Homo sapiens: one gene and its partner. The protein of the gene in region 1 purifies or fractionates together with the protein of each later gene. This does not show direct contact. Each region holds a gene or a part of one and is shown in the gene's direction. Other genes may lie near its edges.

Region 1 (3,825 bases):
ATGGCAGACGGCCCTCCTCCCTCCAAGCTCGAGTGTCCCAGGTCGACCTCAGACTGCTGTGCTTGCAATGAGGATTTCAAGCCAGTGAATCTTAGCTTGCTGGGCTCCGTGGGGGTGGGACCCGCCAAGCTAGACCACTTGGCTCCCTGGCTTCAGCCCCCCTTCCAGGGGAGTGAATGGTTCTGCCTTGCTGGCATTCCAGGCACCACTGGGGTATGGAAAATAAAACTCCTGCAGCTAGTTCAGTGTCTGCCCAAATGGCTGCCCAGTTTTGTGCTTGACACCCAGGGCCCCAGTGGCGTAGGCACCGGAGGGAATCTCCTGGTCTGCAGGTTTCAAAGACCATGGGAAAAGTGCAGTATCTGGGCTGGAGTGCACCGTTCCTCAGGTACAGTCCCTCATGGCTTCCCTTGGGTAGAGGAGGTAGTTCCCTGACCCCTTGTGCTTCCTGGGTGAGGTGACACCCCACCCTGTTTCAGCTGGCCCTCCATGGGCTGCACCCACTGTCCAACCAGTCCCACTGATATGAACTGGGTACCTCAGTTGGAAATGCAGAAATCACCCGCCTTCTGCGTTGATCTCACTGGGAGCTGCAGACCAGAGCTGTTCCTATTTGGCCATCTTGCCAGCAATCAGACCAGAGTTTTAAATGGACTACAAAATAGGTCAAACTCTATTTCAGAACTAGAGGCTAGGAATAATGTCCAAACTTGGTTATGAAAGTTTTTTTTTTTTTTTGGTCTGGTAGGATAAGAGGGTTTTTACTCATCTTAAGTTTGAATTAAACTTTGTAACAAAGTTATTGTTTTTTTAAACAATGCATGTATCAAATTATCTGTCTCATTAGATAACTAGGTAGACTTTTCCAAGATGGTTTCAAAATCAAATATATATTCAAAGATCTTCCAGTGTAAAGCAATAGGAATGAAACAAGCCATGAGAAAGCAGAATATTTTGAGTATATTCTCATGCCTTTCTTTAAAGGAGAAGCGCCTATCTAAACAGTTACAGAAACCCAAATTCAAAGTAGATTAAACAAGAAGTAAATTTGTAAACTCTTTTAACTGGGAGACAGGAAGTAGGGAGGGCTCCAGGCACAATATCATTAGCAGTTCAATGTGAACGAAGACCCATGTCCTTTCCAAGCCTCCCTCTGCCATCAGCATTGCCCTCCTTCCCAGGGTCACAGATGGCTATCAATGGCAAAACTGGGGTTCCGCGTTCTCTTCTCCTCATCTGGCAAGAGAAAATGGGAAATCTCTATCCCAAGCTTGGATTAAAAATTATTTTCATTTTTGTGTTCCAGCAAACTTGGGTCCTATGCCCAGCCATGGACCAAAAATAGGCTTAATGTGAATGTTATGTGCTGATTGGATTAAAATAAGTTCTGACTCTGAATCTGGGAATGTGGTCACCTTCCTCAGAGACAAGTTGAGAGGTTGGCTTATCTGAATAAAAGCAGAGAATATGAGATGCTGGAGAGGTGTTCATTAAGGAGAACATTCCCTGAGGTGAATTAACGGTTAGAATTATCTATCTCTGTATTTATCTATCCACCCATCTATCATCATCATCACCTCATCTCCCTCCTTTCTCTCTCTCTAAATATATACATGCGGGTATGTTGAGTGTGTATATATTTATTTTTTTGTGTGTTTATATGGTGTGTGTGTGTGTGTATTCCAGGCAGATGTGTGCATATATACCCAAACTTTCCTGATGACCTTGAAATTAAATGGGTCATGTGAAGCTAAAGATTATAGAACCCCTTGATTCCTTTATAAACAGTATTTCTAAGATAAGATCAACACTAATCTTTCAAATTAGTTGACTGTGTATAGAACAACTTGTTTATTTAAAGTCATCTAGTCTAATGCAATCAAGGAGTAAATTATAAATAACCAGTTAGCATAAATGGAAAGAAAATAGTTCCTTTTCTTTGAATTCATTTCATGTTTAATTTTTCTTGCGCACATATAGAAATGAATAGAAATATTCCCATTTCAATATGCAAATTCAGCCACTATATAGTTTGTTTCTTTTTGGTAGCTAATAATAATAAATTTTTAAGTAAGATCTGATTTTGAAATATGAAAAGAAGTTTATCCTTTCCTGTTTTAATACCACCTGATACCCGTTTAACTTACTGTGTTTGATTCTTGGGGACATTTATGTTCAAGGTTCTGTCAAAGCAATCTATTATTCTTGTTTTTACCTGATGGATCATGGAGAAAAATAATGGATTCAGTTATGAGAAACAGTAATAGATTTTTTTAACTGCCATAAATTTCTCTCCCTGTATTAAATAAAAGGATCAGGAAAAGATAAGTTGAATTTTCCTACAATGAGCCAGCTCTTCTTAAATTTACCTCCCATAAATTGTAGCAAAGCACTTTTCATATAATGTTTTATTTATGTAATTCAGTTATTTGGAGATGGTGGTGAGGGATGTGAGTACATCATTTCATGTTGTATTTCAAATCTCTTTTGACAGAAACCCTAAGAATTTGCAATAAAGAAAATTCAATGTTCCATTAAGTTTTTCTTTTTCTTTTTTTTTAAAAAGAGGGTAAGGAAGGAAATAAGGGAATAGATTTAAGTTACCTAAGGTCAAAAGAGGCACAGGGTAGACTCTGAATAGTTGTGGAACCTGAATATTTTGTCATCAAAAACAAAGTTAAAGTCAGAGTGACCAGGAATCTGCAAACTGGCTGTGGGAATGGGTTGACTTAAAAGACAGACAAAGAACTAGCCTGTGGGGTAACATCAGGCTAGGCTCACCCTCAGCTTCTACCCACAATATCTGTATGATGACCATGTGGATCTAATGAACCAGGAGGGGCCCAAACTCTTCCGACTCTGTGGAGGCCTAAAGGAAACTGTTGCCATTGGAAGGATGCCATACCACTACCCAGCTGGAGCTTCCTGAAGGAAGCAGAGCCCAGCTGGTGTTCCATGGTTTGTTAAGCATATGCCATACCTACAATCACTTTTTTCATGGTCTGGTTGAGCATATGATTTCTGAACCAAATAGCCTTTCTGGTATTGTGTCATTGGTGACTCATTATGATTCTTTAAAAAGACACATTATGTGAGCTAGAATGGTGATGATTTGGGTACCTTATTCAAATTGCATCATCATTTAATTCAAGAGAAAGGCCATTCTTAAAGTAAAAGTAAATGAGGTTTGTACACCTGGGTATTGGAATTGCCAGTGGGCTGATCTGACAATGTTTGATTCTTGTTTTTTCTGGAATTATTATGTAGAAGATTCAGTCTATAATCTTCAACATGATGCAAATATTCAGTGTCATAGGATCAAAAAAATGCTGGAAAGTATCTAAAAATCTTTTAAATTCATATCTTAATTTTCAGTGTTATCCTCTTACTGCCTACATTCCCCCACTAAACTCTTAGATTTTTCTCTGCTTTTGTTAAGAAAGTGATGTTAGTAGGCCTCTCAAGTTATTTATGAAATTTAGAAATATACTGGAGAACAAAGTAGTATATAAACCCTGAATTTCAAAAGCCTTAACAAGTTTAGCTTCAATCTACATTCAGATGACACTATCTACAGAGATGTTATAAGATTAAATTACAAGAAAAGAGATGCCCAATTATTTCCATTTACTCTTCTTGCCTAGGTAGTTAATTTATCTATTATTCATTTGAAGCAACAGACGTCAATGTAACATCTTTTTCATTTTCATGGAGAATAATCAGCTTTTCCAGAAAAGGGTGCTATATCTCAAACACACCTCAAGTGTCCAGTTGGAAGTATTACCATGCAGAGGATTCAAGTCATATTACCTAATAACCAGAAGT
Region 2 (3,825 bases), on another chromosome or scaffold:
TTTGCTGTGTTGTCCTTCCTGGGTTTCACACCTCTGGGAAGTCATGGCCCTATAGCTCATAACCTTTGTAATAGGGCCTGGGCGGTCTTTCTTTCCTTCTCTTCCCAGCAGGAGTGGAAAGTGATGTCTGGCTCCCTTTCCATTTTACACTGGCTCCCAGGGGCAAGCAGTCCTCCCTCCATGTGGACTGCCGGGGGCTGGGTGCTCACAGCTGGTATTTACTGGGACTGAGATCAGACCCTGCTTGTCTTTCACTGATCAGGATGTTCCTTCCACCTTTTTACCTGAAATGACCTCACTTCAGACTTGGCTTGCTTCTCTTTCCTTTTCCTTAAATGACTGAGACAGTCTCACCTCTACCATAGTCTTCAAAGACAGTGGCTTAAGCATTTGATGCTTCAAGATTTAAACAGCTGAAATTCTTAACTGAATAGGTTTTTATCAGTCATTCCAGAGATGTTAGATCCTTGTTAAGGCTTCTTGTAAACAATTTTGTCTTGTCAGGAACAGCCTCAACCATCAGGAAAACAAGAGTCAGGTTCAGAAATCCATGTGGAAGTGAAGGCACAAAGCTTGGTTATAAGCCCTCCAGCTCCTAGTCCTAGGAAAACTCCAGTTGCCAGTGATCAACGCCGTAGGTCCTGCAAAACAGCCCCTGCTTCCAGCAGCAAATCTCAGACAGAGGTTCCTAAGAGAGGAGGGAGAAAGAGTGGCAACCTGCCTTCAAAGAGAGTGTCTATCAGCCGAAGTCAACATGATATTTTACAGATGATATGTTCCAAAAGAAGAAGTGGTGCTTCGGAAGCAAATCTGATTGGTTAGTCTGACATTAGAATACATATATTAAGGTGAATTTTTTCATGAATGCTAATTTTTGAAAAGTTTCGTCTTTTCCCTTTGACAGTTGCAAAATCATGGGCAGATGTAGTAAAACTTGGTGCAAAACAAACACAAACTAAAGTCATAAAACATGGTCCTCAAAGGTCAATGAACAAAAGGCAAAGAAGACCTGCTACTCCAAAGGTAGGGGCCTCACTGAATGGCTGCTTTACACATACCGGTGTCATCGAAGCTTGCATTCAGTGTGGATTTATGCTTTAATGTCCTGTTTACCTCCTTCCTGTTTTCTACAGAAGCCTGTGGGCGAAGTTCACAGTCAATTTAGTACAGGCCACGCAAACTCTCCTTGTACCATAATAATAGGGAAAGCTCATACTGAAAAAGTACATGTGCCTGCTCGACCCTACAGAGTGCTCAACAACTTCATTTCCAACCAAAAAATGGACTTTAAGGAAGATCTTTCAGGTAAAAACGTAGTCTTAGATCTTATAAATCTTTTGACTCTACTGTTTTTTACTGTGTTAATGTTTGTTTTGCTAACTTTGTTTATCTGCTGTGAAAGAGATTATAAAATAAACGACTCAATCACCCTTCTGGGGTCTTAGTGTTCAGGGAAGATAAAGCTGTTTTGGCTTGCAAAGACAAGTCTCTGCTAATTTTTGGGATCACATGTCCTGCATGAAATAGGTGTGGAAATGTCAAATGCATGTCTTTACCCTGGAGAGCAGCGTATACATAGAAAGCTGGAAGGTGCTTTACAGTGAAGAGAGTTAACTTGTTAATCTGCAGGTACAATAATAGTTTATCCCAGGTGTGGGCCAGTTGTTGTTGAGCAACATTTTGCTTCTTCAGGATTGACTTTCTAGGTAGCTTAACTTTCTTGAAAGAAAGCCCTATGAGAAGATTCCCATAAACGATTGTTGAAGAAATATTTCCATTCAATTCCCACTCTCAGTAAATTGTGGCCTGACTTGTGTAATTTAAAGTGGGGATGGCCGGCGCAGTGGCTCACGCCTGTAATCCCAACACTTTGGGAGGCTGAGGCCTCCTATCATTCCAAACAGAATGATAATGATATTAGATTTTCAAAAATATATATTATTACTTGACAGTACTAAAAATGGGCAGCTCTTTGTCATTTTCTAAAATGTGGGTACGTGTTATTTGTACTTAAAATCTAGAACTGAGCACCCAAGACTTTGAGAAGCATGAAGGCATTTGGCCTCTAGATCCTAGCAGGGAGGCCTATGGGTCTCAGGAGCCCGTCACCAGCCTCCGTGCTCCAGAGCTCACGTGTGGGGTCTTGTTAGGAGGACCCAGAGGTCAGCTAACTTCATTTGTTTCCTTTCCAAGAAAAGCAAAGCGAAGAGCATAACATATCTTCTCTGTGCTCTCTTTTTTACAAAATGAGTACATTATTAATGGAATCACTCTTTTTATGAGGCCTATGTACCAGGATTTCAAGGGAGGAATCTACTGTTATTTCCCACCATTTGCACGTTACATGTGAGGGCTGGGATGGTTGTCTGCATGTTAGCAATATGTCAATCACTTTTCAAATATTTTCATTTAACAGGAATAGCTGAAATGTTCAAGACCCCAGTGAAGGAGCAACCGCAGTTGACAAGCACATGTCACATCGCTATTTCAAATTCAGAGAATTTGCTTGGAAAACAGTTTCAAGGAACTGATTCAGGAGAAGAACCTCTGCTCCCCACCTCAGAGAGTTTTGGTTGGTTTCCTTGTTTCCTAACACTGTGATGTTTTGGGATAGGAACATACAGTATTATTTTTTTACAAGCAGTATGATATTACTTCTCTAAAACAAATGTTCCTGGCACAAAATACCATTTCCGTCTTCTCTGTTCTAATTGAAAGGGAGATTTCAATCAGCAGTTGAACTAACATTGGCATTCATTGACTTATATAGAAAGAAAGACTCCGTTAATGTGTGTAAATGACCTGTGTACACTTTTGGCTTCTTTATTGTAAGTAACCAGGGTGACATAGCAAAAAAATACAATGGTGTCTCACCATATTTACATATAAATTACTCATATTCAAAATTACTGCCAATTACAAAACAGAAAGATAACAGTTTGTATACTGTGCAATTATTCCTGCTAACCTTTTAGGTGGGAGCAGGCCCGGGGTAAGTGTGAGATGGGAGATGAGAATCTGTCTAATCTCTCATTTGGCACTGGTCACTGTATTCCTGTCACAGAGGGAACAGCTTGCTACCCTGAAGATGTTTGCGGTAGGTAAATATTTCCTGTGTAATATGGACCCTAACCACATAAGGATAATCCATGTTATTTTATTGGCGATTTAAGGCAAGAAACAGCTGTTTGTTTCTAATGTTTGAAGGAAAAAATGCCTATATTTACGTCAATGACACAGGGCATGGCAACCTTTGGAGGAACCTTCTGAAGCAGTATTTTTACCTTCTATGATCATTTCAGCATCTAACTTTGCTTAATGATGACCCCACTATAGCACCAAATAACATTATTCTTAATTGTGCATGGCTCTTATAAGACAGATTTATAGACACATAAGTAGCCTCATGTCGTTCAGTGAATACGAAGCTAAATATTTAGTTTTTTACCATATTTTATGAGGCTGTAATACTCGATTGACATGAGACACTAATAGAATGTTTTTATTGTGTATGTTTTTATTTCAGGAGGAAATGTGTTCTTCAGTGCACAGAATGCAGCAAAACAGCCATCTGATAAATGCTCTGCAAGCCCTCCCTTAAGACGGCAGTGTATTAGAGAAAATGGAAACGTAGCAAAAACGCCCAGGAACACCTACAAAATGACTTCTCTGGAGACAAAAACTTCAGATACTGAGACAGAGCCTTCAAAAACAGTATCCACTGCAAACAGGTCAGGAAGGTCTACAGAGTTCAGGAATATACAGAAGCTACCTGTGGAAAGTAAGAGTGAAGAAACAAATACAGAAATTGTTGAGTGCATCCTA

Evidence for each region.
Region 2: the proteins of FRK (region 1) and MKI67 purify together in Homo sapiens (affinity purification with mass spectrometry; one large-scale study listed by BioGRID and IntAct). This does not show direct contact.

The regions. Positions count from the first base shown.
Region 1 is NC_000006.12:115,931,855-115,935,679, reverse strand, and holds part of FRK (tyrosine-protein kinase FRK), read left to right. Parts: 3' UTR 1-3,825. UniProt on the Homo sapiens protein: Non-receptor tyrosine-protein kinase that negatively regulates cell proliferation.
Region 2 is NC_000010.11:128,109,125-128,112,949, reverse strand, and holds part of MKI67 (proliferation marker protein Ki-67), read left to right. Parts: intron 1-504; coding exon 505-817; intron 818-904; coding exon 905-1,023; intron 1,024-1,133; coding exon 1,134-1,305; intron 1,306-2,416; coding exon 2,417-2,572; exon of another isoform or gene 2,573-3,003; coding exon of another isoform or gene 3,004-3,097; intron 3,098-3,526; coding exon 3,527-3,825. UniProt on the Homo sapiens protein: Protein that associates with the surface of mitotic chromosomes and acts both as a chromosome repellent during early mitosis and chromosome attractant during late mitosis.